Linked DNA regions of Homo sapiens: all the other regions are reported to be linked to region 3. The links are microRNA targets in miRTarBase. Many come from high-throughput screens and were not tested one by one. Region 3 holds a microRNA gene; each other region holds the end of a gene's coding sequence.

Region 1 (10,013 bases), not on the chromosome of region 3:
GCTAGGCACCAGGCAGTCGGTGGGACCCCAGCACTGCGCACCCCAGCCAATTGTGAGAAAACTGCCTACAGCCCTTGGAGCTTGGAGAGCAGGAGCTGAGCAGGTCTCCCCACACTCTGGGTCTCACTCTGTCATACACACTCAGTGAGTACAGGAGTGACCACAGGGATTGCAGACCATTGGGGAGGGCCTTGAGCTGGAGGACAGCCCTGACCATGCTCCTACCTGCTCCCAGGGATCAGAACAAGTACAAGGAGGCTGCCCACCTGCTCAATGATGCTCTGGCCATCCGGGAGAAAACACTGGGCAAGGACCACCCAGCCGTGAGTGAGGGTTGGGTGGGAGGTGGGGGCTGTGCCCCATCCCCTGCAGGTCCCAGAGTCCTGCAGGGCCTGAGTCAAGAAGCTTCCGTTCTCCCACCTCCAGGTGGCTGCGACACTAAACAACCTGGCAGTCCTGTATGGCAAGAGGGGCAAGTACAAGGAGGCTGAGCCATTGTGCAAGCGGGCACTGGAGATCCGGGAGAAGGTGGGAACAGGCAGGGCTGGGCAGGCTGGGGGTCTGGGAGGCAGGGGCCCGGGCAGCCCTGAGCCCAACCCCTGGCTCCCTCTCCCATCCCAGGTCCTGGGCAAGTTTCACCCAGATGTGGCCAAGCAGCTCAGCAACCTGGCCCTGCTGTGCCAGAACCAGGGCAAAGCTGAGGAGGTGGAATATTACTATCGGCGGGCACTGGAGATCTATGCTACACGCCTCGGGCCCGATGACCCCAATGTGGCCAAGACCAAGAACAACCTGGTACCTTGGGGCTGAGAGGAGCTGGAGGATGGGAAGGAGGGAGGCAGGGATGAGGTTGGGGAAGAAGGAGAGAAAAAGGCTTGGCTGCATGCATCCCGCTCACTCTCTGGGTCTCCCGCTTCCAGGCTTCCTGCTACCTGAAGCAGGGCAAGTACCAGGATGCGGAGACCTTGTACAAGGAGATCCTCACCCGCGCTCATGAGAAAGAGTTTGGCTCTGTCAATGGTGAGTGCGTGGTCACCAGGTGCCTCTAGCCCATCCATCCCAGGCCCACTCTGCCATCAGCACCCAGGACAAATCCCTCAGCAGGGCAGGCCCTCAGGCTTTGGCCTGGCTGGTCACCAGCCTCACCCTCAGATGGTGCCCAGCCACCTGTGCTCACGTTTGCACACATGAGCACACACCCAACTCACGCAGCCCCCTTGGCCTGCTAGGGCCTCACACGCCTTTGCATCCCCCTTCTCCACTGGCGATTCTTGCTCACCTTGAGGGCCTGCCCCAGTGTCTCCCACTCTGGGAAACCACCTCTGGCCCCGGATGGTCAGTCATCTGCTCCTGAGTCCCTCGGAGCCTGGCCCATCATTCAGGCCTAGCACATGTCTTGGGCTGTGGCCTGAGGTGCAAGGGTCTGTTCTGCTCATCTCTGTCCAGAAGAGGGTCAGCAGTGTTTTGGGTCTTACTCTTGTTCATGCATTCAACGAAGCCCAACCGTGGTCTCCCCTCCCCTGACCCCAGTCCTGTGTCCAGCCCAACCAGGTGAGACCTATATGGTAGGCTGGTGACAGTCCCCTTTCTCTCCCCAGGGGACAACAAGCCCATCTGGATGCACGCAGAGGAGCGGGAGGAAAGCAAGGTAGCTCTGTGGGGCAGGCTGGGCGGTTGTCAGGGGAGGCTGGGATGTGCAGAGGGGGGCCTGCTCTCACTTCTTGTGACCATTCTTTCCTCCAGGATAAGCGCCGGGACAGCGCCCCCTATGGGGAATACGGCAGCTGGTACAAGGCCTGTAAAGTAGACAGGTGAGTGGGGCGGGGCTGGGCTGGGGAGCAGGGCACGGCAGGGCGGGCTCCACATTCCATACTCTCACCCCCAACACACCCCTCCTCTGCTGCTCATCTGGCAAGGCCCAACTCACAGGTCACCTGTCCCAAGAAGGCTCTGTCTCCCAATTCTCAGCCTAATTCTCTGGCTCTGGGTCTCCCAGCTTTTGGTCCTGGTGACAACATCCCATGAGGGCCCTGGGGCCAGGTCCCCAGCCCTGGGGTGATTTCCCCAGGACAGAAGAGGCTGGGTGGGCCCAGCACAGGGCTTGACATGGGAAGGAATGGATTCTGGCTACCCCGGAGGTCCATGCTTCCTCAGGGCCCACTGTGGGCTGGGTGCCAGGATGGGCCCTGGGTCTGGGGGAACATGGAGTTTGAGACTGTCCCATCCACAGCCCCACAGTCAACACCACCCTGCGCAGCTTGGGGGCCCTATACCGGCGCCAGGGCAAGCTGGAAGCCGCGCACACACTAGAGGACTGTGCCAGCCGTAACCGCAAGCAGGTGGGGCTCCATGCAGGAGGGGGTGGGCAGACACCTGTGTGGCCCTGGGTGTGGTCCATTCACTGCCTGATGCCCCTGCCCCTCCCTCAGGGTTTGGACCCCGCAAGCCAGACCAAGGTGGTAGAACTGCTGAAAGATGGCAGTGGCAGGCGGGGAGACCGCCGCAGCAGCCGAGACATGGCTGGGGGTGCCGGGCCTCGGTCTGAGTCTGACCTCGAGGACGTGGGACCTACAGCTGAGTGGAATGGGGTGAGTCCGGGGCCTGGGCCGGGTCGGGCTGGGAGCCTAGGTGGCCAGCGGGGCCTAGAGGCAAGCCTGTCCACCTGCAGGATGGCAGTGGCTCCTTGAGGCGCAGCGGTTCCTTTGGGAAACTCCGGGATGCCCTGAGGCGCAGCAGTGAGATGCTGGTAAAGAAGCTGCAGGGGGGCACCCCCCAGGAGCCCCCTAACCCCAGGTGAGCCCCCCACCAAGGTGAGCCTCAAGAACCACCCAGCAACCCCGGATGAGCTCCTGACCCAGAGTGTGCCCCACTGACCCCAGGCAACCTCCCCATCCCTCTCAGGCTCCACCACCCACCAGTCTGTTCCCTCCCCAGCCCCACCCTTCTCCCTGCCCCCATCTCCCGTGAGTTCCTCCTTGGGCAAATCCCAGGCTGTCCTTTTCCCTCAGGATGAAGCGGGCCAGTTCCCTCAACTTCCTCAACAAGAGCGTGGAAGAGCCGACCCAGGTAGGGGCAGGCGGGTGTCTGGGCACTGGGCAGCTGCGGCCGGGGCTGCATGCGTGCTGCCAAGCTTCCCTCCAGCATGCCTCTTCATCCAGCAACAGTTCCTGGCTCTGTCTCAGGCCTACTTTGGGCTGGACAACGGGGAGACACGAGGGGAACCCAGCCTCTCCTGGGGGTGGACGTGTAAACGGCCAGTGCTAACACCGTCACTGTGGAGATGGACGGGAGTGTCAGGGCACCAGGGTGTGGCCTTGGGTCAGAACTGCCATTGCCTCTGCCCAGCTCAGGGATTCCGGCTGCCTCTGCCAGGTCAGACCCCTTCAGGCCAGGGAGGCACAGACTGGCAGCAGCACAGGGCTGAGCCACCTGCCCCCTCTGCCCACAGCCTGGAGGCACAGGTCTCTCTGACAGCCGCACTCTCAGCTCCAGCTCCATGGACCTCTCCCGACGAAGCTCCCTGGTGGGCTAATGCTGAAGGGGCAGCCAGTCACCAGAGCGCCCACCTGGCACACCCCCCTCACCCCAGCCCTGCGCATGGGCCTGCTGCTTGTCCCGCCTGTCTCTCCCACAGCCCCTGTCTTTTCTGTTCAATCTCAGGGTAACCTTCTCCCTTGTCATCTCAGCCTGAGCCCTGGAGGCTGGGCCTGCCCACTCCAGCTCCATCCCTTATTTATTCCTTCCAGCAGGGCCCTCTTCCCTAGGTTCGGGCCAGCAGGAGGTGCCGGCTGGAGTCTCCACCATAGACTCAGTGGCCTGGCCTCCCCAGACCCCAGAGCCAAGAACACTAAGCACTCGCCGGCCCTTCGGCACCCTCGCCCTCCCTCCCGACTCAACCCGGCCGTTGCTTCTGTATATAGAGAAATAAGTTATTGGCCGCGCGCCTCCCTTCAGTCCACGGTACTACCCGGGCCTCCCCTCGTCCCTCTTCTAGTGGTACCGCCCAGGCCTTAATCACCCCCATTCCGTGCGGTGGTATCTCCCAGGCTCTACATTCTCGGGAGCGGCGCCTCCCAAGGGGGTCCTGGGACCTTCTCGCGCTCCTCCTGGCCTCTGAGGGATGCGTCCTACCCGCGCCATCGCCCCGTGGCCCAGGACGGGGACCTCCCCTTAGTCCGTCCTCCCACCGCCGGGCCCTGCCCCGCATCCCGGCCTTATGCACTGCCCCTCCCACCCGGCCCCGCCCAGGCACGGCCGACCCCGCCCCGGGCACCGCCCACCGAGCCATCCTGCCTCGCCTCCCCCCACGCCTGCAGCTTCTCGCGAGGGGCGGCGACGGTCCCCTGGTGGCAGGAGGGGCTCCCCCTGTTGCGGGTGAGGCGGCTGCTCTCATATTTTCAGATGTTGCTGTAGAAATAAAGACGGTTTAAATCTGAGCTGGGCTTGTTTTGAGACGGAGGTCGGGGGCCCCCAGCGTCTCTAGACTGGGGTGGAGCCGGGAAGGGTCGTGCGTGAGTGGGGGACAGTGTGTCTCGCTCAACCGCTGTCCGCGCAGCTGGGCCCAGATATTGTGCCCCACCCCGGAATTGCGTGAGGGGCCCACAAGTCAGGCTTTCCCTAAAACACTCACTTGTGGGGTTCTGGAGACCGCGGGCTCTTATGAGCTCTGCTCCTCACAAAGTTTTTGACCTTGAGTGAGTTTCCCGAGACTCAGTTTTTTCATCTATGAAATGCGGGTGATGACGCGCGGCTGCGAGTTAGGACTGCCCAGTACACGAAGAACCCTGGACAAATGTACTTTTATTAGTCTTACTAGAACCCACATTCTCATTTAATGTTCACAACGTGGGTATTGGGAGGGCAAGGATGACTACCTCCGTCAGACAGATGTGAAACGTGCCAAGCCCAGCCCTAAATTGAGCTTTCTAAACACCGAGTCGCGGTCAGGCTTTCCAGCACTGTCCTCAAGCCTGAGTGCGTCCGGAGTGCAAACTACAAGCCCCAGAAGGCAATGCGCCAGCAGTGATGGGAGTGGGCGCGGAGGCGCGGGCTCCCCGACTACGCCTGCGCAGCGGGGCTGAGTTGGAGAACGTCTTAGACTACAAGTTCCGGGAATCAGCGCGGCGAGGCCTGAGAAGAAGACGTTTGCGCCTGCGCGTCGCGGGCGGGGCCTCTGGGGCGGAGCGGCCACCATCTTGGAACGGGAGGCGGAGCAGAGTCGACTGGGAGCGACCGAGCGGGCCGCCGCCGCCGCCATGAACCCCGAATAGTGAGTGAGCCCCGCCCGCGCCGTCCAGCGCAGCCTCGATCCCGAATACAGGGCTGTACGCTTACCGGGGTTGTCTGGCCCGGGTCAGGACTGTGCGGCGCCCCCACATCCGGGTCCCTCTTCCGCTGACCCCCCCCCACATCCGGGTTCTGCCCCTCCCCCCAGGGGCCCCAGGACCCCGGCTCAAAACCCCGAGCCCTCGCACCCGGGGCCCAGACGTGGCGACCCCCAGGGGCAGCTCTTGGAGCTCGAGACATCGGTCCTACCAGGCCTTATCGGTCAGATGACCCCGCAGTCCCGGTCACTTCAGGCCTCAGTTTCCCCACCTGCTGCTTGACAACTGTCCCGGAGTTTTGGAGCCCGTCTTGATAGTTTCTGGTCTCGGGTTCAGGCTTGGGCCCTTTAGGTCGGGCAGTGAATCCCTCTACCCTTCTCTTTCTCCTGAAGCCCGGCTCCTGGGGCCGGCCCAGAAGCTAGCCAACTACGCGGGAGGCCCCGAAGCGCCGCTTGGGTCGCGTCTCCCGCAGGTCCTCTCTTCCGGGGCTGCCTCCTACCCTTTGCCTGGGTCGCGCTGTCCTGTCGCTCCCGCCGGTCCGTCCTTTCCCGCCCTCTCCTCGCTTTTGCTCAGGCCCCCAACGCCACCGTCACACCCCTTCCCTTGGCTGTCACACTGCCTGTGAAGTTTAGATGAATATGGAATTTGCTCTCCCCCTTCCTGTGGGATTCTCTGGTCCTCAAACTCTCCTCACTCTTGGTCACTCCCCCTGCGGGTAGGTGGCCCACATCTCATGCCCAGGACTAATAGTTTTCCCCAAGTATCAGTTATCTTCTTCCTTTTCTGCCACTTCCTTTTTCTACTCCACATCCAGGTCTCAGATTTCCTTGGGGAAGGGTGAAGCTCTGAGCTGGATTGGGAGGGGAACAGAGAAGGGAACCAGCAGGCTCTCGAAGGGACTTTGGAGTCTGAGAAACCTGGTTTGAGTCTTAAAGCGATAAACTGTGTAAGTTAGGGCAAGTCACTTCCCTTCTCTGGCCTCTGGTTTCCTCATTAGTTGACAATGACAAAACTGACTTCATTGAACTGTTGTGAAGATTAAATGAGATGATGCATTTAAAGTACTTCACACAGGGTCCGTCCACAGGTTGGAACTCAAGTATATTAAATGTGATTACCTTTTGCCTTTTTTTTTTTTTATTTTGAGACAGGGTCTCTCTCTGTCACCCAGGCTGGAGTGCAGTGGCGTGACGATGGCTCACTGCAGTCTCCAACTCTTGGGCTGAAGCAGTCCTCCTGCCTTGTCCTCCTGAGTAGCTGGGAATACAGAGGCACACCACCACACCTGGCACATTTTTTAATTTTTTGTAAAGACAGGGTCTCGATATGTTTCCCAGCCTGATCTCAAACTCCTGGGCTTAAATGATTCTCGTGCCTCGGGCTTCCAAAGTGTTGGGATTACAGGTGTCAGTCACTGCACCCAGCCTTAAGTGCAATTTTCACTGCAACTTGACCACCTCTTCCTGGTGACTTCATAACAGGTTTTTGTTGTTGTTGTTGTTGTTGTTGTTGTTGTTGTTGTTGTTGTTGTCTCCAAAGAGATGGGGTTAGCCGGGTGCGGTGGCTCAGGCCTGTAATCCCAGGACTTTGGGAGGCCGAGGTGGGTGGATCACGAGGTCAGGAGATCGAGACCATCCTGGCCAACATGGTGAAATCCCGTCTCTACTAAAAATACAAAAATTAGCTAGTCATGGTGGCGCATGCCTGTAATCCCAGCCACTCTGGAGGGTGAGACAGGAGAATCACTTGAACCAGGGAGTCGGACGTTGCAGTGAGCCGAGATCGTGCCACTGCACTCCAGCCTGGTGAGAGAGCGAGACTCTGTCTCGAAAAAACAAAAGAAAAGAGAGACGGGGTTGTGCTGCATCACCCAGGCTGGTCATACACTCCTAGGCTCCAAGGATCCTCCTCCTGTTTCAGCCTCCCCAGTAGCTGGAACCACAGGCACACGCCACAGCACCCAGCCATCAGTCTCTCTACGTGGGTTTTCAACTTAATAGGTTCTAGGCTGGGCCCTGGCTTCTACTTCTGGGGCCTTCTCTGCCAAGCTAGGCACACGCAGGGCATGTACTGGGGATTCCCTAAATAGCTCCTACTGGACCAAACCATGAAGTTTCAGAAATCAGGTTAGGATACCCAGCTCTGTTGCCTTGGCAGGTCACGTGTCTTGATTTCTTTCTCCATAAAGTGAGAATTTAGACTCAGCAAGCTGAGAGCCCTTTGGGCTAGCTGTTTGTGGAGGGAGGCATCAGCCCTCCCTGACCGGGACTGTTGGGAAGATCTGGTGAGCACCATAGTATTCTAAACCAAGGGATGGCCAGGCGCAGTGGCTCACCCCTGTAATCCCAGCACTTTCAGAGGCCAAGGCAGGTGAATCAATTGAACCCGGGAGTTTGAGACCAGCCTGGGCAACATAGTGAGACCCCATCTCTACAAAAAATGAAAAGATTAGCCAGGGGCCGGGTGTGGTGGCTCACACCTGTAATCCCAGCACTTTGGGAGGCCAAGGCAGGTGGATCACCTGAGGTCAGGAGTTCGAGACCAGCCTGGCCAACATGGTGAAACCCTGTCTCTACTAAAAATACAAAACTTAGACAAGCATGGTGGCAGGTGCCTGTAATCCCAGCTACTCGGGAGGCCGAGGCAGGAGAATTGCTTGAACCCGGCAGACAGAGGTTGCAGTGAGCCAAGATCGCGCCATTGCACTCCAGCCTGGGCAACAAGAGCAAAACTCAGTCTCAAAAAAAAAAAAAAAAAAAAAAAAAATTAGCTAGAAGTGGTGGTGGTGGTGGACACCTGAAGTCCCAGCTACGCAGGAAGCTGAGGTGGGAAGATCACTTTGAGCCCGCAAGGTAGAGGCTGCAATGAGCCGTGATCACTTCAGTGCACTGTAGCCTGGGTGACAGAGTGAGACCTTATTGCTAAAAAAAAAATAAAAATAAACCAAGGGATGCCTCATGGGGTGGGGGAATCCTGTAATTGTGACTCCAGGATGATGGTAGGTGGGCTCCCTGCCTCCCTTCACGCCTTCCCATCTTCTCTCTCCAGTGACTACCTGTTTAAGCTGCTTTTGATTGGCGACTCAGGCGTGGGCAAGTCATGCCTGCTCCTGCGGTTTGCTGTGAGTAAGAAGCCTCCCATACCATCCACCTGGGGTCCTGACTGGCAGCTGGGGGGAGAAGGGACAACACAGAGCACAGTAGTTGCAAGATCTGGGAACCAGGGGTGAAGCTGTAAGACCTGCCACCAGCACATCTGCCCTGAACAAGACAGGGCTGGCCAGCTGAGTGCTGGGAATTGGGGCTTGGTGGTTCGGAGACCCAGCTGGGGCAGGGAACTGGAGGGAGGCTCTCCAAGTGGGCCTCACCTCATTAACTCCCATGATTTCATTGGCCCCTGAACTTTCAGGATGACACGTACACAGAGAGCTACATCAGCACCATCGGGGTGGACTTCAAGATCCGAACCATCGAGCTGGATGGCAAAACTATCAAACTTCAGATCGTGAGTGTCGCTCTTCCCAAAATCCCCAGTACAGAGGTATCCACCTTGGGAGGGAAGGGACTCTGGGACTCTGGACCTCAGCTGACCTGCTCCTCTGCCTACTGTCTCCTAGTGGGACACAGCGGGCCAGGAACGGTTCCGGACCATCACTTCCAGCTACTACCGGGGGGCTCATGGCATCATCGTGGTGTATGACGTCACTGACCAGGTACTCCTGGACTAGCCATCCTCAGCTTGGCCTCCTTAGCCTTAGGTCTTTGACTCTTCTTTTTCCTCCTTCCATCCTCTCTTTCCTGATGCTTCCTGGAAAGGACACTATTTGTCTGCTTACAGGAACTAACTAGGAAAAAGAAAAAAAATAGGTGACTGTACTTGGACTCATTTCACAAGGAGGGAAACAGCCACAGAAATGGATCCTCTGAAGGCCCTGCTGCAGGTTCTGGCAGGACAAGGCCTCACACCTTCCCTCCCCACCAAGCCAAACTTGCCACCTTATTGTAGACCTTCTGGGCACCTTTGTGTTGTGGGAGTTTAGTCAGGCGGTTGGCTGCTATGCTGGGCCTGTGGCTTCCTGTGTGAAGACACAGTGCAGGGGGACAATTAGAGGGCCTTAGACAAAGAAGCAGGGAAGCTTGAGCTCTGGGCCCAATGTGAGCAGAGATCCAGAAGCTCTGCCTCCAGCAGCAGCGTTAGTCCCATGTGACTAGCAGTGGTGGTAGCAAGGGCTGGAAATGGTTCCATGAAACCTTATAGTTTACAGAACCTGGCCCAGCCCTCAGATTGCCTCTGATGCTCAGAAGAGGTCTGTGTTCCCATCGCACAGGTAAGGAGCTGGGCTCAGGATGGTGAGGTGACTTGCCGAGGGTCCTTCAGCTAGTCCGGTGGCAGAGGCAGAAAGCCTGGATGGCTCATTCCACCTGCTTTGTTTTTTCTACCAAATGTTGTTGCTTAACAGGGCCAATCCCTGAAGATAAGGAGAAGCTTAAATCAGCCGTGGGCCGGGAAGAGTCCCTGTCTGAGGAGCAGCCGGGCTCTTTAGCTCACCAGGGACTCATGATGTCCCCAGCTCTGGACGAGCTGTGGGGAAGCTACATACCACCCAGACAAGTTACCAGGGCCCACCTGACTGCCATATATCCAGTGATCTTATTTCAGCACATTGACCTCTCGTGGCTTTGGACACTG
Region 2 (10,026 bases), not on the chromosome of region 3:
AGGGAGGGGACGGTGGGAAAGCTGATCATGTGCTTTTAAAAACAGAGAAAGGAGCCGAAAGGCGAGGCCAGCTCTTCCAACCCTGCCACGCCCATCAAGATCCCGGACTGCCCAGTTCCCGCCTCGCTGCTGGAGGAGCTGCTGAGACCACCGCCCGCCGTGAGCAAGGAGCCCCTCAAGAACCTGAACAGCTGCCTCCAGCAGCTCAAGTACGACCGTATTCCGTGCTGCACTTCAGCTAGTCTTAAAGATTAATGCCCTCTTACCTGGGAGGGCACTCCTGGTGCCAGTACTGAGTGCCCAGCAGAGTTTCAGCAGGTTTATATAAGGGTGGGGGACTCGCATACATAGCCTCTGAGGTTTATATAAGGGAGGGACTTGCACACACAGCCTTTGAGGTTTATATAAAGGGGGAAGGACTCAGCCTCTGAGGTTTATATAAAGGGGGAGGGGGACTCGCACAGCCTCTGTGGTTTATATAAAGGGGGAGGGACTCACAGCCTCTGCGGTTTATATAAAGGGGGAGGGGGACTCGCACAGCCTCTGAGGTTTATATAAAGGGGGAGGGGGACTCACACAGCCTCTGCGGTTTATATAAAGTGGGAGGGGGACTCGCACAGCCTCTGAGGTTTATATAAAGGTGGGGGAACTCGCACACACAGCCTGTGAACTCATAGGTGGAAACTGCCTGGAGTTAAACTACCCTGATAGGCCCTGAGAAGCTGGAAGGCCACACATGGTGCACCTGGCAGCCTGAGGCTGAGCGAAGTGTGTAGGGCGGAGCCAGGCGGCGCCCCGAGGGCAGGTAACGGAGTGGAAGTCGTGTGTGCCAGGCCTCAGTGACAGCTTCCACCCTGCCGCCTGGTCAGGACTGGTCCTTGAGCCTGTGTCCTCTGCACAGTGTAGAGAACGGTGCTGAGAACAGCTGAGCTTCTGTGGTCTCAGTTGGTTTGCGGATCCCCGAAGGCGCCCCGGTCCACTCAGGTGCTAGCGAGTGACGCTGTCCACAGGTGGCGCGTTCTGCCTGGCACTTGTGTGATCTGGGCCTTCTTCCTCCTTCTTCTGTCCCAGGCAGGAGATGGACAGCCTGCAGCGCCAGATGGAGGAGCACGCCCTGACGGTGCACGAGTCTCTGTCCTCGTGGACGCCGCTGGAGCCAGCCACTGCCAGCCCTGTGCCCCCGGGGGGTCACGCCGGCCCACGCGGCGACCCACAGAGACACAGTCAGAGCAGGGCTTCCAAAGAAGGGCCGGGAGAGTGACTGCTGTGGACTCGCCTCCGTGCGCCGCTGCCCCAGAAGGCTCTTATCAATGTTATTTATTTGATTGTGTGGTCGATGTTTTTCTAAGACATGAAATTTAAGTTTTGTTTTGCCTTTAACAAGAAGTAAAATATATAGCAGAATGAGAGCCAAGGACTAGAAAAACATTCGAAGATCACAATTAGCTTTTCACATGGAATGACCAACTCTTAAAAGCCTGATAGGCTCTCGGCGAGGAGCTTTGAACGTGTCTGAAGGGTTACTTGTAGGTCGTGGCTTCTGAGCGGCCACCGATGCTGCTCTCTGCGGGTGACAGGGAGAGGCTGCGTAACTGGGAGCAGCTGTGTGACAGGGTCTGCGGCACCGCGCCTGGCCAGGCCGGCTGCAGTTTCTCACTTCCCTGTTCCATTCAGTAAGAGCTTTACTTTTCCGCAGAAATGAAATTTTATCTGTACCTTTGGCTTTTTACTTGTTTTTTTGGATAGCCATCCCACCATAGGATGTGTACATAGATACTGAATATCATAATCCAATCTTTGTTTTTTTTTTTTTTTTTTTTTTGAGACAGAGTCTCGCTTTGTTGCCCAGGCTGGAGTGCAGTGGCACACTCTCCGCTCACTGCAAGCTCCGCCTCCCAGGTTCATGCGATTCTCCTGCCTCAGCCTCTCGAGTAGCTGGGATTACAGGCGTGCGCCACTATGCCAGGCTAATGTTTGTATTTTTAGTAGCAATGGGGTTTCACCATGTTGGCCAGGATGGTCTCGATCTCCTGACCTCAAGTGATCTGCCCATCTCAGCCTCCCAAAGTGCTGGGATTACAGGCGTGAGCCCCTGCGCCCGGCCTGTCACCCAGTCTTTAAGAAGCATATGCTCATGTTATTGAAGAAGAACCTACTTATTATTGATTGCCTTTTGAAAATTTGTTGGGAATAATTTACCTGCAGGATTTAGGGATAGTCAGAAAATTCTAAGAAATATAATTATTTTATTTACCTTCTAAAGCCAAATATTCTTACACAGAAAGGTCCTCTGTTGTTCTGGTTTTACTTTGTTGCTGAGGATCTTTCCTTCCTGCTGGTCTCTTCCTCTCAGGCCACTGGCCCTGTGTGATTCCACCGTGGCTGGCCACTGGGAAGGGGCAGCTTGGACCCTTGGTCAGGCCTGACGGCCATCAGGAGGCACAAGGACACTGAGGCCCCATATCTGATCTGACCTTTGGGGGGGCACAGGGAGAGGCCGGTGGAGGAGGAGGAGGAGAGCAGACCAGGGGCTCCCTGCAGCGACTCCCGCGGTTTCCCCTGGAGTCAGCCAGGTGTAGGTCGCAGGCGGTAACAAACCTCACACTCCTGTTCCCCAAGTGAAAATCTTTACCATTGTCTGTGGGAGCGCCTGTACTCGTGTGTAGGAGCACCTGTACTTCTGCAGTCATCGAGAAGTCCTGGATCTTTTGTGGTTACACCAGCATCATGTGGCAAGCAGAGGCGACTTCCGGAAGAGACAGGCAGGCACCGTGAGGAAGGTGGCTGTGCTCTCCCAGGTGTCTCAGAGACAGATGCCTTATTTAAAATCAGCACGACATGTGTGAGATCTTCTGTTTCCTACCCCAAATCCTGAAACCCTGCAGACACTGGCTGACTGGGAGAGGTGGGGTCTGTAAGTTGTCCCCTAGTTTGCTAAGAAAATCTAAAATAATATTTATTATATGAGTTAGGAGAGAGAGAATGGGTCCGCGTGGCCTCCTCTGCAGATGTACTGGTCTGAAATGAGGTTCTGAGTCACTGGCCAGGCCAGATGTGCTCATGTCGGTGTCTGGTGTCTGTTTTGTGGAGAAAACAGTATGGTGTGTTTTAAGCTATTTGTGTTCTGTTGTAATATACTTTTAGAAGGTTAATTGGTAAGGTTAAGGTAGCATTAACCACAAAGATGTTTGGTATTTAAAAAATATTCTCTAGCAAATATTGGAATTTCCAAAATATATCATTTGTACAGGGTTAATTTTGAAATAATACTTGAAAATTTCATTATAAATATATCCTACTTTTTATCTTAAGTTGAAGATGTTATTTACTAAATTGTTCTTGTACCATTAGAAAAAAAAATACGGCAATTTACGTTCTTATTTATTTTGGCTGTACTACCCCTTTGTTTTAATTTTAAAATCAAGAAATCGGGCCGGGCGCGGTGGCTCATGCCTGTAATCCCAGCACTTTGGGAGGCCGAGGCGGGTGGATCACCTGAGGTCAAGAGGTCCAGACCATCCTGGCCAACATGGCAAAACCCCGTCTTTACTAAACATACAAAAATTAGCCGGGTGTCGTAGTGCGCACCTATAATCCCAGCTACTTGGGAGGCTGAGGCAGGAGAATCACTTGAACCCAGGAGGCGGAGCTTGCAGTGAGCCGAGATCGCGCCACTGCCCTCCAGCCTGGGCAACAGAGCGAGACTCCGTCTCAAAAATAAATAAATGATTTTAAAAAATCTAAAATCGAGAAATCACACATTCAGTGGGGAGCGACTTCTCCTTGCTTATGGGAAGTCCTCAAGTGAGTGATGTTCACCATGTATTTTTTTTTCTCTTAGGACAGACTAATTCTGAAAATACCGAAGGAAAAGTAGCTCTATGTTCTCACCCCGGTTTTCCTGCGTGTGTGCCCTTGGGTGCGATGCCTCCCCCAGCGCTCTGTGGTCGCCGGTGCCAGGGCCCCCTCTGGTTTGGCAGGGCCTGGCTGCCTTTGCTCCCTGCAGTGAGTCTTTTGGTGTTTTCATGCACGGCTTGTGCTTCTGGATCTGAGGCCTCTCGTGTTCACGCGGACACTTCCTTCCTTAAGAAGACGCCTAAAAGAGGAAGTTGGAATTTTTTTTTTTTTTTTTTGAGACAGAGTCTCGCTCTGTCGCCCAGGCTGGAGTGCAGTGGCGTGATCTCTGCTCACTGCAAGCTCCGCCATCTGGGTTCAAGCGATTCTCCTGCCTCATTCTCCCCAGTAGCTGGGATTACAGGTGCCCGCCACCACACCAGCCTAATTTTTGTATTTTTAGAGGGGTGGAGTTCCACCATGTTGGCCAGGCTGGTCTTGAACTCTTGACCTCAGGTGATCCTGAGCCTCAGCCTCCCAAAGTGCTGGAATTATAGGCGTGAACCACCGCCCCCGGCTGCAGTTGGATTTTTAAATTGCTTTTTTTTATTGTTGAGGTTTTTTTATCTCCAAGGGACTCTCCCGGCACTTCTACCTTCCAGAGTTACTTCAGTGCATAAAGTTTGAATTATTTTGTTCTTGTGGGCAGAAGTGGGAATGATGGAATATCCTCACGGAAAAGGCAGTGAAGTTGGGAGTACTGCTTACAAAACAGGGTCACCAGTGCATTATGTGGCGTGTTCATCCCCACGCCGTGTGTCACGGGCTAGGGCGGCGTGTTCATCCCCACACCGTGTGTCACAACAGGCTAGGGCACTTCACGATGTCACTACTTGTTTTTCTGATGTTCCAAAAACAACGTAACTTGGTTTTCATGTGTTTTTCCGTGGTATATGTGAGATTGATGCTACGGGTCTTACGGACTCACACCCGTTCCCACTCTCTGCAATATGGATCAGGCAGTGTTTCTGATAGGATGTGAAATGGACTCTCCTCGGGTGGGTCCAGCAGGGGCCCTGCCCACCAGAACACAGTCCGTGCTGTGCTGCGCTAAGGAGCTGGCCCTCAACTCTCCTTGGTGCAGGGTTCCCACAACCGAGTTCTAGTTCCCTGAGGTCTTTAAAAACAAAAACAGAATGTTGTACGTGAAGATTCTAGGAGGGGAGGGACCAGCAAATCTGAGAGAACCGTCCTGGGGCCTCCCTTCGAGGAGCCCTCTGATGTGAGGAGGGACTTGAGTTGAGTGACGCTGTGGTGTGAGGTGTTCTGAGCTCACTGACCGGAAGGTCCAGGTGAATCTCGTCATAAGTGATCTCAGGCTCTCACAGGATCCGGAGGGAAATGTGTTAGAGGGTCTGGAAAATTCAGTGCTTTTGAGTTACTTGTTTTTATTAAAAATTTCCTCACAAAAGAGAGTCCTCAAGTTGTGGCTGTTCTTGGGAAAGGGGTCACCGTGTCTGACAAAGTGTAACTTTAAAAAGCACGTTGATTTTTTACAAATGTAAGTGTGCTTGGGAATTCCTTAAATTTTGTGCAATAAACTATTTTTTGGTAAAGATTTTCATATTCATTGGAAGCTTCATTTTAATAGTTATATTTTGTCGTTTGGCAGTAACTTTTTAATCTCATGTTATTACACACTCTGTTCAACACGTGCTTTAAAAGAGAATTCTACTGTCCTGCCGGTTTCTGGCAGGAGTGAAGCAAACTTCTGTGGCTTGTGACCACGGCAGACGCGCGGCACCGCCTCCTCCGTCCTTGGCCCACGCTTCGCTTTGCCCGTTGTCATTTGCCAGGAATACAGAAGGAGGGGGAGCAAGCTTCCCGGTGAACCGGGGAAGGATGGTGACCGCTCTGTGCTGCGCCTCCTGAACTGGGTCTCATCATCCAGGTGCTGCCCTCTGCTGGGCCTCCCCGGTGACAGTGGAGTCATGACTCTCAGACCTCAGCAATGTGACTTCCCAGATTCTCGTCTTTTTCATCCATACTTTGATTTTGGTCATTAAGAGTTAACCAGGCGTAAGCTGGGTGTGGTGGCTCACGCCTGTAATCCCAGCACTTTGGGAGGCTGGGAGGGGGTGGTCACCTGAGGTCAGGGGTTCAAGACCAGCCCGGCCAACATGGTGAAACTCCACCTCTACTAAACAAAAAATTAGCCAGGGCGTGGTGGCGGGCGCCTGTAATCCCCACTTGTCAGGAGGCTGAGGCAGAAGAATCGCTTGATCGGGCAGAGGTTGCAGTGAGCCGAGATCACACCACTGCACTCCAGCCTGGGTGACAGAGCATGACTCCGTCTAAAAAAAAAAAGAGTTAACCAGGTACAGAGTTTTCAGTTAGACGTTATTAGAGGCCACCATGGTTTAAAAAGTACAGAAAAGGGGCAGGAAGTGGTGGTCGCTGGGCTTGGCCCTGTGGGATTAATGCACTTCTTCCTGTGAGCGTTACCAGCTTCTGTACCCAGAGAATTGCTACACAGAGTAAAAATTCCCTGACCACCTTCTGTGGCCTTAACTTTCTGAAATATTAAGGATATAATTTTTTTTGGTCTATAGAACCCTTAAGGGGACATGTATGTATCTGAACTTTTTCCTTTTCTCCATGGAGTTGCTACGTGTTTGCAGGCACTGCACTGACAGGTATATTTTAAGCTGTGTCTGTCTCAGCAGCTCGAAGCTCCACGCTGCGTCCTGCTACAGAGCTCAGCAGTGGGTGTCAGGAGTGGTTTTGGCAGAGATGAATGGGTCACTTCTTCCTGGCTTAGAGTGGCGGCAGGTACTGTCAGGAATTTGGGTTGAGTGTAGGACAGAGGACGTATCGCTGATGGGAGGCTCAGGATTTTTTTTTTTTTTTTTTTTTGGAGACGGAGTCTCACTCTGTGGCCCAGGCTGGTGTGCGGCGGCGCGATCTCGGCTCACTGCAAGCTACGCCTCCCAGGTTCACGCCATTCTCCTGCCTCAGCCTCCTGAGTAGCTGGGACTACAGGCTCCCGCCACCACGCCCGGCTAATTTCTTTTTGTATTTTAGTAGAGACGGGGTTTCACCGTGTCGGCCCGGATGGTCTCGATCTCCTGACCTCATGATCCGCCCGCCTCGGCCTCCCAAAGTGCTGGGATTACAGGCATGAAGGAGACTCAGGATTTAAAAATTACCAGGTCACTCAGAAATCTGAGACCTCGGGTAGTATTAGGAAGCAGGCCAGGCACAGTGGCTCATGCCTGTAATCCCAGCGCTTTGGGAGGCTGAGGCGGGTGAATCACTCAAGATCAGGAATTTGAAACCCGCCTGGCTAACATGGTGAAACCCCATCTCTACTAAAAATACAAAAATTAGCCGGGCGTGGTGATGGGCGCCTGTAATCCCAGCTACTCAGGAAGCTGAGGCAGGAGAATTGTTGAAGCCGGGAGGTGGAGGCTGCAGTGAGTGGAGTTCGTGCCGTTGCACTCCAGCCTGGGCAACAAAGTTGAGACTCGAGATAAAAAAAAAAAGCAGGAAGCAGATAATGGGGGAAACTAAGACGACTGCACTTCCGCCGTCTAGCTTGATGGATAAACATGACAGTTGCTGGCAGCGTCCCCAAGCCTTTCCCAGATGACGAGAGCAAGTCCCAGCACTTGGTGGCGTCTACAGTCGGGAGCATTTGTTGGAACTTGGCGGCCTCTACACAAGCTTCCGTCTGAGGGGGAATGTTGCAGGTTGCGATAAAGAGCATACTTGGGCAGTGGCCTTTCTCCTGGACACAGGGCAATGTTAAACTGCTGCTGGGCCGCCTCTGCCCATGTTTGCAACGCCCTCTGCTCGCCTGTGTGTGGGGGCGTCCTACAGCCCTCCTCCTGGCAGTGCCCTCTTCACCTCTGTGTGGGGGTGTCCTACAGCCCTCCCCCTGGCAGTGCCCTCTTCACCTGTGTGTGGGGGCGTCCTACACCCTTCCCCCGGCTCCACCACTGGCTGCCGGTGACCTTCACAGTGTCCACATCTCTAAGTTCTGACTCCATCTGAAGTGAGGGCTGAAGGTGGCGGAACCTCTGGGAGGCGTGAAAGCCGACTGTGGGCGCCCAAGGCAGCTGAGGGCTGGCGATGCCCTCGTTACTGATGAGGTGGGAACCTCTAGCCCCAAAGGCAGCATGTCCTGGTGGCACCTGGGGAGGCAGCTCTGGGAGCACCACCAGGACACCCATCTCCGCGGCCATCGGCTCAGGGATTTGCGGGAGATTGCTGGGCTTTTCTACACATCGTCGGGGTTGGATTTCACCTTCACATGAAATAGATATATTTTGAGACGGAGTTTCACTCTTGTTGCCCAGGCTGGAGTGCAGTGTCTCGATCTCAGCTCACTGCAACCTCTGCCTGCCAGGTTCAAGTGACTCTCCTGCCTCAGCCTCCAGAGTAGCTGGGCTTACAGGCTCCCGCCACCACGCCCGGCTAATTTTTGTATTTTCAGTAGAGATGGGGTTTCACCATTTTGTTCAGGCTGGTCTTGAACCCCTGACCTCAGGTGATTCACCTGCCTCTGCCTCCCAAAGTGCTAGGATTACAGGCATGAGCCACCGCGCCCGGCCCACAGTGAAATATTTTTGAGTGTCATGTCTAAATGCCCTGAAACCCAGAGAAGGACAATCTTGTCTCTGCTCGCGGAGCCTCCCACAGCACTTCAATTGTTGCAAGATTTCCTTCTGAGCGTTAAACGTGCATTTCTGGAGACTGGATAGATACGTCAAGTGTATCTTCCCAATGCTTTCAAAAATGCCCCCATCTTCACCCAGAAAACAGACCCCCCCCCCCCGCCACCTGCCTGTCCCTGCAGCTGGGCGTCTGATGGTCACGGCCGTAGCTCCCCTGAAACCCCTCATTCCCCTGCATCAGCCCAGGTCCCACCAGGTTCTGGAGCCTGTACGTTTCCACTCAGGGCCGTTATCTCCACCTGAGGGCCTCTGGCGTCCTGCGGTTGCCGTCCCTGCCCCTGCATTTCCTCTGCTGAACCACTTGGCCTGGGCTGTTTTCCTGACTAGACCCTACTGTATGTAACATACGGCTGGGTTTCTACAAGTGCTAAATAGCCATTGATAACAAACTTAATAGACACACGGCCTTTAAGGAAATCCAATTAATATTGAAAAAGAAGGGGAAGAAAAGAAATTAGCTACTCCCTGCTCATCTAGGGCTTTTCCCAGCACGTTGGGAGTAAATCCTCGAGCTGTGAGACTTCAGCTTCCGCTCAGTCCCTGGGGCTCACATGGCCCCTTTGTGATCTCGGATCAGAAATGAAGTAGAAGTTAAATTACAACTAGGAATAAAATCAGGGCTGGGCGCAGTGGCTCACGACTGTAATCCCAGCACTTTGGGAGGCCGAGGTGGGCGGATCATGAGGTCAGGAGATCAAGACCATCCTGGCTAACGCGGTGAAACCCCGTCTCTACTAAAAATACAAAAAATTAGCCGGGCGTGGTGGCGGGCGCCTGTAGTCCCAGCTACTGGGGAGGCTGAGGCAGGAGAATGGCGTGAACCCGGAAGGCGGAGCTTGCAGTGAGCCGAGATCGCGCCACTGCACTCCAGCCTGGGCGACATAGCAAGACTCCGTCTCAAAAAAAAAAAAATTCAGAACGGCTCTCAGAAGAGGCCATTGATTCTAATAAGCTTCATTTTGTTCATTCACCGGAAATCTACTTCTACCTGCAGGAGTTTACGTCTCAAAGTTTTTCATTTCTACCTAAACAGTAGCTAATATAGGGTTGGCTTCTGAACAGTGGAGTTGTTCTCCATGTTTTCCTGTGATTGTTCCTTTCTCATTTAACTGGGAGTGGATGCATTACATGGGGGTGAGGGCATGGCCCTATCAGGACCCTGGCTGCTTACCTGGATTCCACAGAAGTCCTGGTGTCAAGGCTGGTGGAGCTGCTGCACCAGAGACCCTCAAGCATGAAAACAGGATTGACCAGGACAGCCTCACGGTGCCGAGAACGAAAGTGCCTTCCCTCTCCGCTAATCCACAGCGTCCACCTGCCCGAGAACAGCTCTCCCAGTCCCACCTTCCGTCCCGCTCTGAGGTGAGCGGGGAGAGAAAAGACAGGAATGCGCATTGTGGGCGCTTGGGCTCCGTGGCCGCGTCCATCACCGTCCGTCCACTCTCCGCTGCCT
Region 3 (10,142 bases):
TCAAAAAAACAAACAAACAAAAAAACATTATAGGACAACTCTTTTGTGAAAAAGTACGTAAGTTTTGTTAAGCAGCTCTCATTGTTATATGATCATACTTATTATATGGTACAGAGAAAAAGAAAAGACACTATTATTGTAGACAGATGTTGTAAAGATGAAAGTTTGTGATGATGAGATCAATATGGTGATGGGCCTGTTCCTATTTCCTGTCTGTAATGTGTCCACTGCAGGAAGGAGCAAAGGAGTATGCCATGCTCCACAACCCCCGCTCCAAGTGCTCTGGTCGTCGCCGGAGAAGGCACCACATAGTCAGTGCTTCCTGCTCCAATGCCTCAGCCTCTGCTGTGGCTGAGACTAAAGAAGGAGACAGTGACAGGGACACAGGCAATGACTGGGCCTCCAGTTCTTCAGGTACGATGAACAGAAAATGAAGACTTTTTCTTTCCATGCAAGGACTCTGGTAAACCCAGGATCACTGCCTGACACTTAACTTTACTACCTCTTAAAAATTATAAATTCTTTCTACAAGTTTTGTAAACAGTAAAGATGGGGAATATTTTCTTTTTTTTTTTTTTTTTTTTTGAAACAGTCTCTCGCTTTTTTGCCCAGGCTGGAGTGCAGTGGTGCTATCTTGGCTCACTGCAACCTCCACCTCCCAGGTTCAAGCGATTCTCCTGCCTCAGCCTCCCAAGTAGCTGGGATTACAGGTGCCTGCCACCACGCCCGGCTAATTTTTATATTTTTAGTAGAGACGGGGTTTCGCCATGTTGGCCAGGCTGGTCTTGAACTTCTGACCTCAGGTGATCCGCCTGCCTCGGCGTCCTAAAGTGCTGGGATTACAGGCGTGAGCCACCCTGCCTGGCTAATTTTTGTATTTTTAGTAGAGACAGGGTTTCGCCATGTTGCCCAGGCTGGTCTTGAACTCCTGAGCTCAAGCAATCCACCCACCTCGGCCTCCCAAAATGCAGGGATTACAGGCGTGAGCCACCATGCCTGGCCTAAAGATAGGGAATATTTTCATTCCTAACTGTTCTACCTTTTAAAGTAGAATGAAGTACTTCTGAGTTTGTGACAAACTACTGATGACAACTGCATTCTACCTTCTTCTGATTCTGTTATTTCTTCCCTTCTCAGAGGCTAACTCTCGCTGTCAGACTCCCACAAAACAGAAGGCTAGTCCAGCCCCACCTCAACTCTGCGTAGTGGAAGCACCCTCGGAGCCTGTGGAATGGACTGGGGCTGAAGAATCTCTTTTTCGAGTCTTCCATGGCACCTACTTCAACAACTTCTGTTCAATAGCCAGGCTTCTGGGGACCAAGACGTGCAAGCAGGTACCATCTGGAAGCAGCAGAACAAATGGGCCCCTCCTTTCACGCATTGCTCTGTCCAGCCCTTTGCCATCTTACCAGGCTGTGTGTCTGGGTCTGGAGAGAAGTTGTCTTAAGTTCAGTCCCTGATGAGCCTGTGCTTCTGTGAGTTTCCCAAACATGGCCCTTCTGCAAGTGCCAGGCCTAATGATGTTTGGGGACCCGCCTCCTCCTTGCTGAATGCTCATTTCTGTCTGGACTCTATTTAATGCTTCTGGGTCCTACACTCTTTCGCTTCTTTTTTTTGGCTCTGGCCTCCTTTCTAAATGTGTACCCCTTTCCCAGAAGGGACTCCCAGGTCTTTCTGTGGCTCTTGTTAATGAGCACACTGCTGCTGCTGCTGCAGCTGCTGCAGCTGCTGCTCCCTCCACCACTCCGCCAGCCTCTTCAGTCATTTTATTCTCCACATTTTCTATCACTAGATTATCTTTATTTTGTCTTTGAGACAGGGTTTCACTGTGTCGCCCAGGCTGGAGTGCAGTGGCATGATCATAGCTCACTGCAACCTCCGCCTCCTGGGCTCAAGCAGTCCTCTCCCCTCAGCCAAGCAAGTAGCAAGGGACTACAGGTGCAGGCCAGTATGCCCAGCTAATTTTTTTTTTTTTTTGAGACAGAATCTCGCTCTGTTGCCCAGGCTGGAGTGGTGCAGTGGCATAATCTTGGTTCACTGCAACCTCCGCCTCCCAAGTTCAAGTGATTCTTCTGCCTCATCCTCCCAAGCAACTGGGATTACAGGTGCCCACCACCACACCCAGCTAATTTTTTTTGTTTTGTTTTTTTGAGATGGAGTCTCGGTCTGTTGCCCAGGCTGGAGTGCAGTGGCATGATCTCAGCTCACTGCAGCCTCCGCCTCCCAGGTTCAAGTGATTCTTCTGCCACAGCCTCCCAAGTAGCTGGGATTACAGGTGTGCACCACCACGCCCGGCTAATTTTGTATTTGTAATAGAGACGGGGTTTCACCATGTTGGCCAGGCTGGTCTCAAACTCCTGACCTCAGGTGATCCACCCGCCTCGGCCTCCCAAAGTGCTGGGATTACAGGCATGAGCCAATGTGCCTGGCCATTTTTGTATTTTTTTTTAGTAGAGATGGGGTTTCACCATGTTGGCCAGGCTGGTCTCAAACTCCTGACCTCAAGTGATTGGCCCAGGAAAAGACAGGAAAAGACCACAGTGAGAAGACAGACTGAAGAACAGGGACAAGGAGGCAGCTGTCAGGGCCAGCATGTCCAACAGGAAAGGAACCCCAATGCTTTGGCTTCCTACCTTCTGGAGGAGACTCTGTGGCCTCTTCTTCATGCTTCCTGTACTGAGAACAATTAATAGAACCATGGACTGGGCAAGGTGGCTCACACCTAGAATTCCAGTGCTTTGGGAAGCCATGGTGGGAGGATCGCTTGAAGCCAGGATTTCAGGACCAGTGTGGGCAACAAAGTGAGACCCCATTTCTACAAAAAAAAAAAAAAAAAAAAAGCCACGTACCTGTAGTCCTAGTACTCAGGAGGCTGAGGTGGGAAGATGGCTTGAGCCCAGGAGTTCTATACTACATTGAGCTATGATGGCACCACTGCACTCCAGCCTGGCCAAGAGTATGAGACCCTCTCTCTTAAAAAAAAAAAAAAAAAACAAACAAAAACAGAACCATGAGCTGAAGTGCCCTTTGCTTTCATTTTGGAGCTCATACCTATTTCCCTGATCACAGGTTCTCAACGTAACCATCTATGGATTTGTATGCAAGAATGTTCTTGTCTGTATTTTCCTGAGAATAGTTACAGTTTTCAAAGATCCCCCACAAAGGGCCAATAGCCCCAACAAAGAAAAGGAAAAACTAAAAACCAGTGCTTTAAGAGAAAAAACACATCCTATTGAAATGGCTGAGGCTCCGGTATCTTTATACTGACAGAGGGAGCTAATATTTAGCCCACTGAAACCATTCCTGTCCTGTCCTGTCCTGCCTTACACTCAGTTACACAAGGCACAGCGTTGCCCTTCCTAAAAAGAAGAAGATACTGTTGGTCACAGTCAGCCCACTCTTCTACCCGTGGCTTGGTAGAAAGAGTAGTAGGTGACAGCTTCTGACCAGGGGCGGTATTACTGTGCTCAGTATTTCTCCTTTCCTGAGTCAGGATAAATAATTAGGAATGAACTTCAGAGCCAGTAACCCAATGTTCCAGTGGCACTCTGTCTCTCCCTGACTGATGAGAGGCTTGGTCAGCTGCCTGAGTTTCTCAGAACCCTCCCAAGGCCAGCACCCAGCTGGGCCACTTACCTGACCCCCTTGCTCGAGGAGTGACAGGCCCGTTGGATTTCTCTTCCAGGTCTTTCAGTTTGCAGTCAAAGAATCACTTATCCTGAAGCTGCCAACAGATGAGCTCATGAACCCCTCACAGAAGAAGAAAAGAAAGCACAGGCAAGAAGGGTTGGACAAAGTGTTTTGTTTTACAGCCAGGCTGTTCCCTGTGCTCTGACCTCCCCTTGGAGTTCCCATCTGCCTCCCTCTTTAGCAACCGCACAGGCTGTGTGAGCCCATCAGCTTGGCATCACATGACTGAGAGCCAGCCTCCTGAGTGCTCCCTGAGGGTCTGTGCCTTAGATCAGCCCTCTTCTTGTCCCCCAGTGCTGTGGACCATAACTGTCTGTTTTTCTATTTAAGCTTCTGGCCAATAGGACATGAGCTGGCCTCATGGCTCCACCCTGAAGCCATTTCTCCTTGTTGGTTTTGTTACCACCTTACCCATTTCTCAACTCTGATCAGAGTTTATTTATTTGTTTGGTTTGTGTTGTTTTTCTGAGTTACATGATAGCCTTTACTTAGGTTGGAAGTTTTTAAAAAAATTCTGCACCCTGGCCCTGTTCCCTAGTGACTATCACCTATCAGAGGAAGGAGCTGACACCACTTCTAGATACAGAAGGAAATCCCTGTGGCTCCTCCCTTTCAGTTCTTTCAGAGAAGATTCCTGAAAGGCCTTCCCACCTCCCCATCTTGAAACTCCCCCATATCTCCACCTCCACAAAGACAAAGGGAGAGATTTGGAGAGAAACAATAGCTTTATAATAGACCAATAGGCTTGGGCTTTCTTTTATTTCTGTGTTGTGTTCTTTTATGTTATTTGCTTGTTTGGGAGGGGTTGTGTTTAAGTTTAACTCTTGTAGCACAGGCCAGCTGGATTTAGGATGGACTCTAGCTTCTGTGTACCAAAGTCGTCCTGTTGAGGGGTTTGGGAAGATACTCCCCAGTCATCAAACACAGTCCCTCAGAGCAAGTCACGTTGTCATTTACCTGCATTTGCAGAGCTCCCTAGGGCCGTGACTGAGACCTGTCCTTCCTGTCTTTTTCAGATTGTGGGCTGCACACTGCAGGAAGATTCAGCTGAAGAAAGGTAAGTTCTACCAGGGCATTCTTCAGCAGTTCAGCTGGAGGCCTCACTCTGTGGTCATCACCCTACCCCACCTCCAGCTGCACTTGTTGACCCTGTGCCACTTCCGCAGATTGCAGAATTCTCTGCAGCAACTGAGAACAGCTGAGCCTCTCACTGCAACTGAGAAGACCTCTTAGGAGGTAACATTAAGGGCCTTGTGGTCTGTGATTTTTCTTTTTTTTGAGATGGAGCCTCGCTCTGTCACCCAGGCTGGAGTGCAGTGGCACAATCTTGGCTCACTGCAACCTCCGCCTCCCGGGTTCAAGCAATTCTCCTGCCTCAGCTTCCCAAGTAGCTGGGATTACAGGCATGTACCACCATGCCTGGCTAATTTTTGTATTTTTAGTAGAGACGGGGTTTCACCATGTTGGCCAGGCTGGTCTCGAACTCCTGACCTCAAATGATCCACCTGCCTCGGCCTCGCAAAGTGCTGGGATTACAGGCGTGAGCCACTGTGCCTGGCCAGTATGTGACTTTTCTAGTGTGCCATTTGCTAGGTTCCAGACCTCATTTAATGTTTAGAATAGCTTCCCTGTTGTCCCAGACCATCTCCACACCCTCCCCACAAAGCAGATCACCCCACTGCAGCTTATGAACAACGGTCATCCCTGTCTTCTCACTTCAGGTGCTAAATGTGTGTCCAAGGAGATTGTTAGGACCAGCCTCCTCTGAATCAGGGCAGCTGGACACTTGGGAGGGAAGACAGCTGGAGAGTATGGTCACAGCAGCATCCTCCTCTGTTTTCTTTCCTAGATAACTCTTCCACACAAGTGTACAACTACCAACCCTGCGACCACCCAGACCGCCCCTGTGACAGCACCTGCCCCTGCATCATGACTCAGAATTTCTGTGAGAAGTTCTGCCAGTGCAACCCAGACTGTAAGTGTGCTACGTTTTCTGTATAGTCTACCAAAACAGTTGGCTCCAGTGTGCCCTAGGCTTGCCCCATTCCTGTGCCCTTTACTGCTTATGGCCTTCTGATATCCCCTTTGCTGTGTTTTAGGGATTCTACAAATGAAATAAGTGCATGAGATCTGGGAGAGTCGTTTCTGGAAAACGTTTAGGTTCATGATTCTAAAAGCAGCAATTACACAGAAATCAGATACTTTCCCAACTTTGTCTTCTAGGGGAGAATTAAGAAATGTGGGGGGCAGCAGGCGCAGTCACTCACGCCTGTAATCCCAGCACTTTGGGTAGGCGGATCACTTGAGGTCAGGAGTTCAAGACCAGCGTGGCCAACTTGGCGAAACCTCATCTCTACTAAAAATAAAAAAATTAGGCCAGGTGTGGTGGCTCACGCCTATAATCCCAGCACTTGGAAGGCCAAGTCGGGCAGATCACTTAAGGTCAGGACTCAAGACCAGCCTGGCCAACATGGTGAACCCCGTCTCTACTAAGAATACAAAAATTAGCCAGACATGGTGGTACATGCTTGTAGTCCCAGCTACTTGGGAGGCTGAGGCACAAGAACTGCTTGAACCCAGAGGGCAGAGGCTGCCAGTGAGCCAAGATTGTGCCACTGCACTCCAGCCTGGGCAACAGAGCAAGACTCTGTCTCAAAAAGAAAAGAAATGTGGGACTCTTTTTTTTTTTTTTAAGTTACAGCCCCAGTTTCCCTTTTCTGAATACTGTTTTAAAAAATTTTTTATTCAGATATTTTTTGTTTGTGATTCTGTGTATGTCTATTTTCATTTCATAGCTGGAGTTTTAATATCAGGTAGAAGACAGGGGCCTGGATGTCAGCAGAGACATCCGGGTACTTATCTTTTACTTCTTATCCCACCATGCCCTTCCCAACTCAAAGCTGAGCAGTTTGATGGCAGTCCCCACAGCTTGCAGAACTTGGTGCCCAGGCGGTTTTGCTGGAGGAAATACCTCCTAACCCATAGCAGATAGTGATCTTAGCCGCAGCAGAGAAGTGGTTGCGCTGGGTTGGGCAGTGGGTGGAGAAGGATGGCATAGAACGGATGCATTCTGTTCTCAAAATGATACTTGTTTTGATGGTGACAATTTACCAGTGAAACACACTGATTTCATATTCTCTGGGGTACTCTCCACCTCAGTGGGAGGGAGAGGATTGTTGGGGAATCTCTAGGGGACACTTCTTATTAGTATACCTGCTTTTTTTTTCATTTTTTAAATTTTTTTGAGACAGGATCTCAGCTCTGTTGCTCAGGCTGGAGAGAAGTGGCACAATTATGGCTCACTGCAGCCTCAACCTCCCTGGCTCAAGCCATTCATCCCCCTACATCCATCAAGCCTGGGACTACAGGCAGGTGTCACCACACATGGCTATTTTTTTTTTTAATTTTTTTGTGGAGACAGGATCTCCCTATGTTGCCCAGCCTGGTTTTGAACTCCTGGGCTCAGGTGATTCTCCTGCCTTGGCCTCCCAAAGTGCTAGGATTACAGGCATGAGCCACCATGCTTGACCACACCTGCTTTTTTGACTCGAAGGCATGAATGTTGGGAAGCACTCAGTTTTCTATGGACAAAACTTGTGTATTTGATTATTGGGAAGGGAGCTTCCTCTTATTTTGCCAAACATCCTTGAACACAAAAAATTTACTTCTTTGCTGTCCCTTGAGTCAACCACAAGCCCCAGTATTAGCTTATTTCCCTTCTAAGACTTACCTGTCTTCCCTTCCCAGGTCAGAATCGTTTCCCTGGCTGTCGCTGTAAGACCCAGTGCAATACCAAGCAATGTCCTTGCTATCTGGCAGTGCGAGAATGTGACCCTGACCTGTGTCTCACCTGTGGGGCCTCAGAGCACTGGGACTGCAAGGTGGTTTCCTGTAAAAACTGCAGCATCCAGCGTGGACTTAAGAAGGTGAGGCCTTTCCTCAGGACCCCACACCACATAAAATGGAGGGGGAAGGAAGGAACGGTCCCAAGCATTCTCTTTCCACTGGTTCTTTTGAGGCTTTATATGTGAAAGTGCTTGATAAATCCTAAAAGACACATATTTACTGAATTAATAAAGGCTTCAGTCCCAGTAGGGCTTAGAAAAATGGTTCCTGGCCAGGTGTGGTGGCTCATGCCTGTAATCCCAGCAGTTTGGGAGGCCGAGGCCAGCGGATCATGAGGTCAAGAGTTCGAGACCAGCCTGGGCAACATGGTGAAACCCTGTCTCTACTAAAAATATAAAAATTAGCCAGGCATGGTGGTGCATGCCTGTAATCCCAGCTACTCAGAAGGCTGAGGTAGGAGAATCGCTTGAACCTGGGAGGTGGAGGTTGCAGCAAGCCGAGATCGCACCACTGCACTCCAGCCTGGGACAGAGTGAGATTCCATCTCCAAAAAGAGAAAGAAAAGTGGTTCCTTGAACTGGCCAGACAAAAAGGAGCTGCGAGGTGTATGCACCTTTGGTGATGTCTATGTTTACCTCACACATTGCAGTGAATTCCTATAGACTAAGGCCCAGGAGGGCTCCATGGATAAAGGAAGAGATATCCTATTTCCGTTCGTCACCACCTCCCATTTTCTTTTCTCTCCCAAGCAGAAAAGAATGGGTTAGACCTTTTTCTGCTTTCAGATCCTCTTAACAGTTGCTGGTTCTTTCCACCCCACCCCCACCACACATGTGCACATCCAGCACACACCCCCTACTCATGCACACCCTGTAGTCTGAGACTTGGCCCCCTCTTCCCCAGCACCTGCTGCTGGCCCCCTCTGATGTGGCCGGATGGGGCACCTTCATAAAGGAGTCTGTGCAGAAGAACGAATTCATTTCTGAATACTGTGGTGAGGTGAGTGCTATAGTTTTGGCCCACATTCTTACTCGGGGGAGACTGATGAGAAACTCTGATTTTCTGTGGGCCAGGCTTCTTTGAATTAATCTCTAAATAACTCAGCTGTGTTCTCACGTGGCCTCTTGGGGAGATCCCACAGAACCGTTTGCAGTACTGAAACCACTGTTCAACTCTTTGGCAACTCCAGACACAAGAGATGAGGGGGGCTCTTTTCAGCCTTAAAACTGGTTGGCCTGGGTGGGAATTGGAACAGCATAACTTGAACTTGCTCTCTTGTGATTCTCATCATGATGCTCAGTAAGCACCCATGTGAGATACCACCCAGCCCTTTCTGGGGGCAGGGTACCATGCCCTGAGCAGGCAGCCTGATACTCCTATTTGTTATTTGTCTATCTCTCTAGCTCATCTCTCAGGATGAGGCTGATCGACGCGGAAAGGTCTATGACAAATACATGTCCAGCTTCCTCTTCAACCTCAATAATGGTATGAAGTCACTTTGTCTCATCCCAAGGTGGTCTTTTTTTTTTTTCTTTTTTTGAGACGGAGTCTTGCTCTGTTGCCCAGGCTAGGGTGCAATGGTGCGATCTTGGCTCACTGTAGCCTCTACCCTCTGCCTCCCGGGTTCAAGTGATTCTCCTGCCTCAGCCTCCCGAGTAGCTGGGACTACAAGCACCTGCCACCATGCCCGGCTAATATTTTTGTATTTTTAGTAGAGACTGGGTTTCACCATGTTGGCCAGGCTGGTATCGAACTCCTGGCCTCAAGTGATCCACCCGCCTCGGCCTCCCAAAGTGCTAGGATTACAGGAGTAAGCCACCGCACTTGGCCCCAAGGTGATCTTTCTACCAGATTGCCCTTGCTGTAGTCCAAGTTTAGATCAGCTCCGAATCTTCCAGCAGATGCATAGAGCAAGGGGGCAGGATCACACTTGGGGATCCCACAGGCCACAGTGCCCTTGCTTTGGAAGAACCTCCATTTCTGGGTTCTGTTTGTAATAGGAGTGCTGAGCGTCTTTACCTGAGAAATCTCCCTGCCCAGTAGATGAGAAGATCCATAATTCAAAGAGGGACCCAAAGGGAGTGCTCCCACACAAGGCTGAATTCTGAGGCTGCATGCTTTCCTCTGCTCCTGTTAGCACACTGGGCTTCAACATTCCCATCAGACTAAAGTGTTTCTGTTACCATTTAACTGATTTTAAATTCAAGCTGAGAAGCTGTGGAATTGCCTGCTGTGCTTATGGTTTTCCTTGATTTACTTTATACAGATTTTGTAGTGGATGCTACTCGGAAAGGAAACAAAATTCGATTTGCAAATCATTCAGTGAATCCCAACTGTTATGCCAAAGGTGAGTCCCAGTAACCTGGGAGGTGGGGTGGGGGATGGATGCCTCTTTACTGTGATTTCCATTCGTTGTTGAACATTTTCCTTAGCTGAGCTATTTTTTGTCCAAAGATAATCATGATTAATATCTGGTATCATTTTAGGCCCCTCTCAATCTTAGTTTTCTAATCTGCTTTTTTCAGCGAATACATTATAAACACTTTCCCACAAACATGATTTAACCAGCCTGAGCAACATAGTGAGACCCATCTCACAAAATAATA

What was found. Region 3 holds the annotated microRNA hsa-miR-6780a-5p (UUGGGAGGGAAGACAGCUGGAGA, at 5,477-5,499, shown strand). A microRNA usually pairs through its seed, bases 2 to 8, with sites in the 3' UTR of a target mRNA and lowers its output. Matches are read on the target gene's strand: a 7mer-m8 pairs with bases 2 to 8, a 7mer-A1 pairs with bases 2 to 7 and ends in A, and an 8mer does both.
Region 1: miRTarBase lists KLC2 as a target of hsa-miR-6780a-5p. Seed matches in the 3' UTR shown: 8mer at 4,070-4,077, 7mer-m8 at 4,180-4,186 and 7mer-m8 at 4,227-4,233.
Region 2: miRTarBase lists GOLGA3 as a target of hsa-miR-6780a-5p. Seed matches in the 3' UTR shown: 7mer-m8 at 1,892-1,898, 8mer at 2,059-2,066 and 8mer at 4,368-4,375.

What each region holds. Positions count from the first base shown.
Region 1 is chr11:66,263,425-66,273,437 of GRCh38, forward strand. KLC2 (kinesin light chain 2) reads left to right here. Exons shown (of 16, transcript NM_001318734.2): 6 at 236-323; 7 at 427-528; 8 at 622-795; 9 at 921-1,020; 10 at 1,599-1,648; 11 at 1,744-1,811; 12 at 2,231-2,339; 13 at 2,430-2,588; 14 at 2,669-2,793; 15 at 3,009-3,066; 16 at 3,449-4,436. The coding sequence ends at 3,532. It overlaps RAB1B (RAB1B, member RAS oncogene family), which reads left to right and starts at 5,215. Exons shown (of 6, transcript NM_030981.3): 1 at 5,215-5,269; 2 at 8,373-8,445; 3 at 8,733-8,828; 4 at 8,941-9,036. The coding sequence starts at 5,256. KLC2-AS2 (KLC2 antisense RNA 2) reads right to left here and starts at 4,987. Exons shown (of 3, transcript NR_186342.1): 1 at 4,875-4,987; 2 at 4,631-4,784; 3 at 4,125-4,407. It overlaps LOC107984340 (a long non-coding RNA gene), which reads right to left. Exons shown (of 2, transcript XR_001748274.1): 2 at 8,733-9,168. It also overlaps KLC2-AS1. RefSeq lists enhancers at 2,785-3,667, 4,424-4,473, 4,774-4,823, 4,944-5,273, 5,434-6,315 and 1 more and silencers at 3,924-3,973, 3,994-4,313.
Region 2 is chr12:132,764,340-132,774,365 of GRCh38, reverse strand. GOLGA3 (golgin A3) reads left to right here. Exons shown (of 24, transcript NM_001389683.1): 23 at 46-209; 24 at 1,072-5,452. The coding sequence ends at 1,261. Among named protein-coding and RNA genes, the nearest start is that of ANKLE2, 7.5 kb to the right of the region's middle. RefSeq lists enhancers at 2,365-2,564, 4,656-4,825, 6,294-6,343, 6,454-6,503 and a cis regulatory region at 4,740.
Region 3 is chr17:42,703,481-42,713,622 of GRCh38, reverse strand. MIR6780A (microRNA 6780a) reads left to right here and starts at 5,472; the gene lies at 5,472-5,539. It overlaps EZH1 (enhancer of zeste 1 polycomb repressive complex 2 subunit), which reads left to right. Exons shown (of 21, transcript NM_001991.5): 11 at 234-414; 12 at 1,138-1,334; 13 at 3,686-3,777; 14 at 4,707-4,747; 15 at 5,540-5,665; 16 at 7,438-7,616; 17 at 8,440-8,535; 18 at 8,940-9,021; 19 at 9,803-9,883. RefSeq lists an enhancer at 8,133-8,773.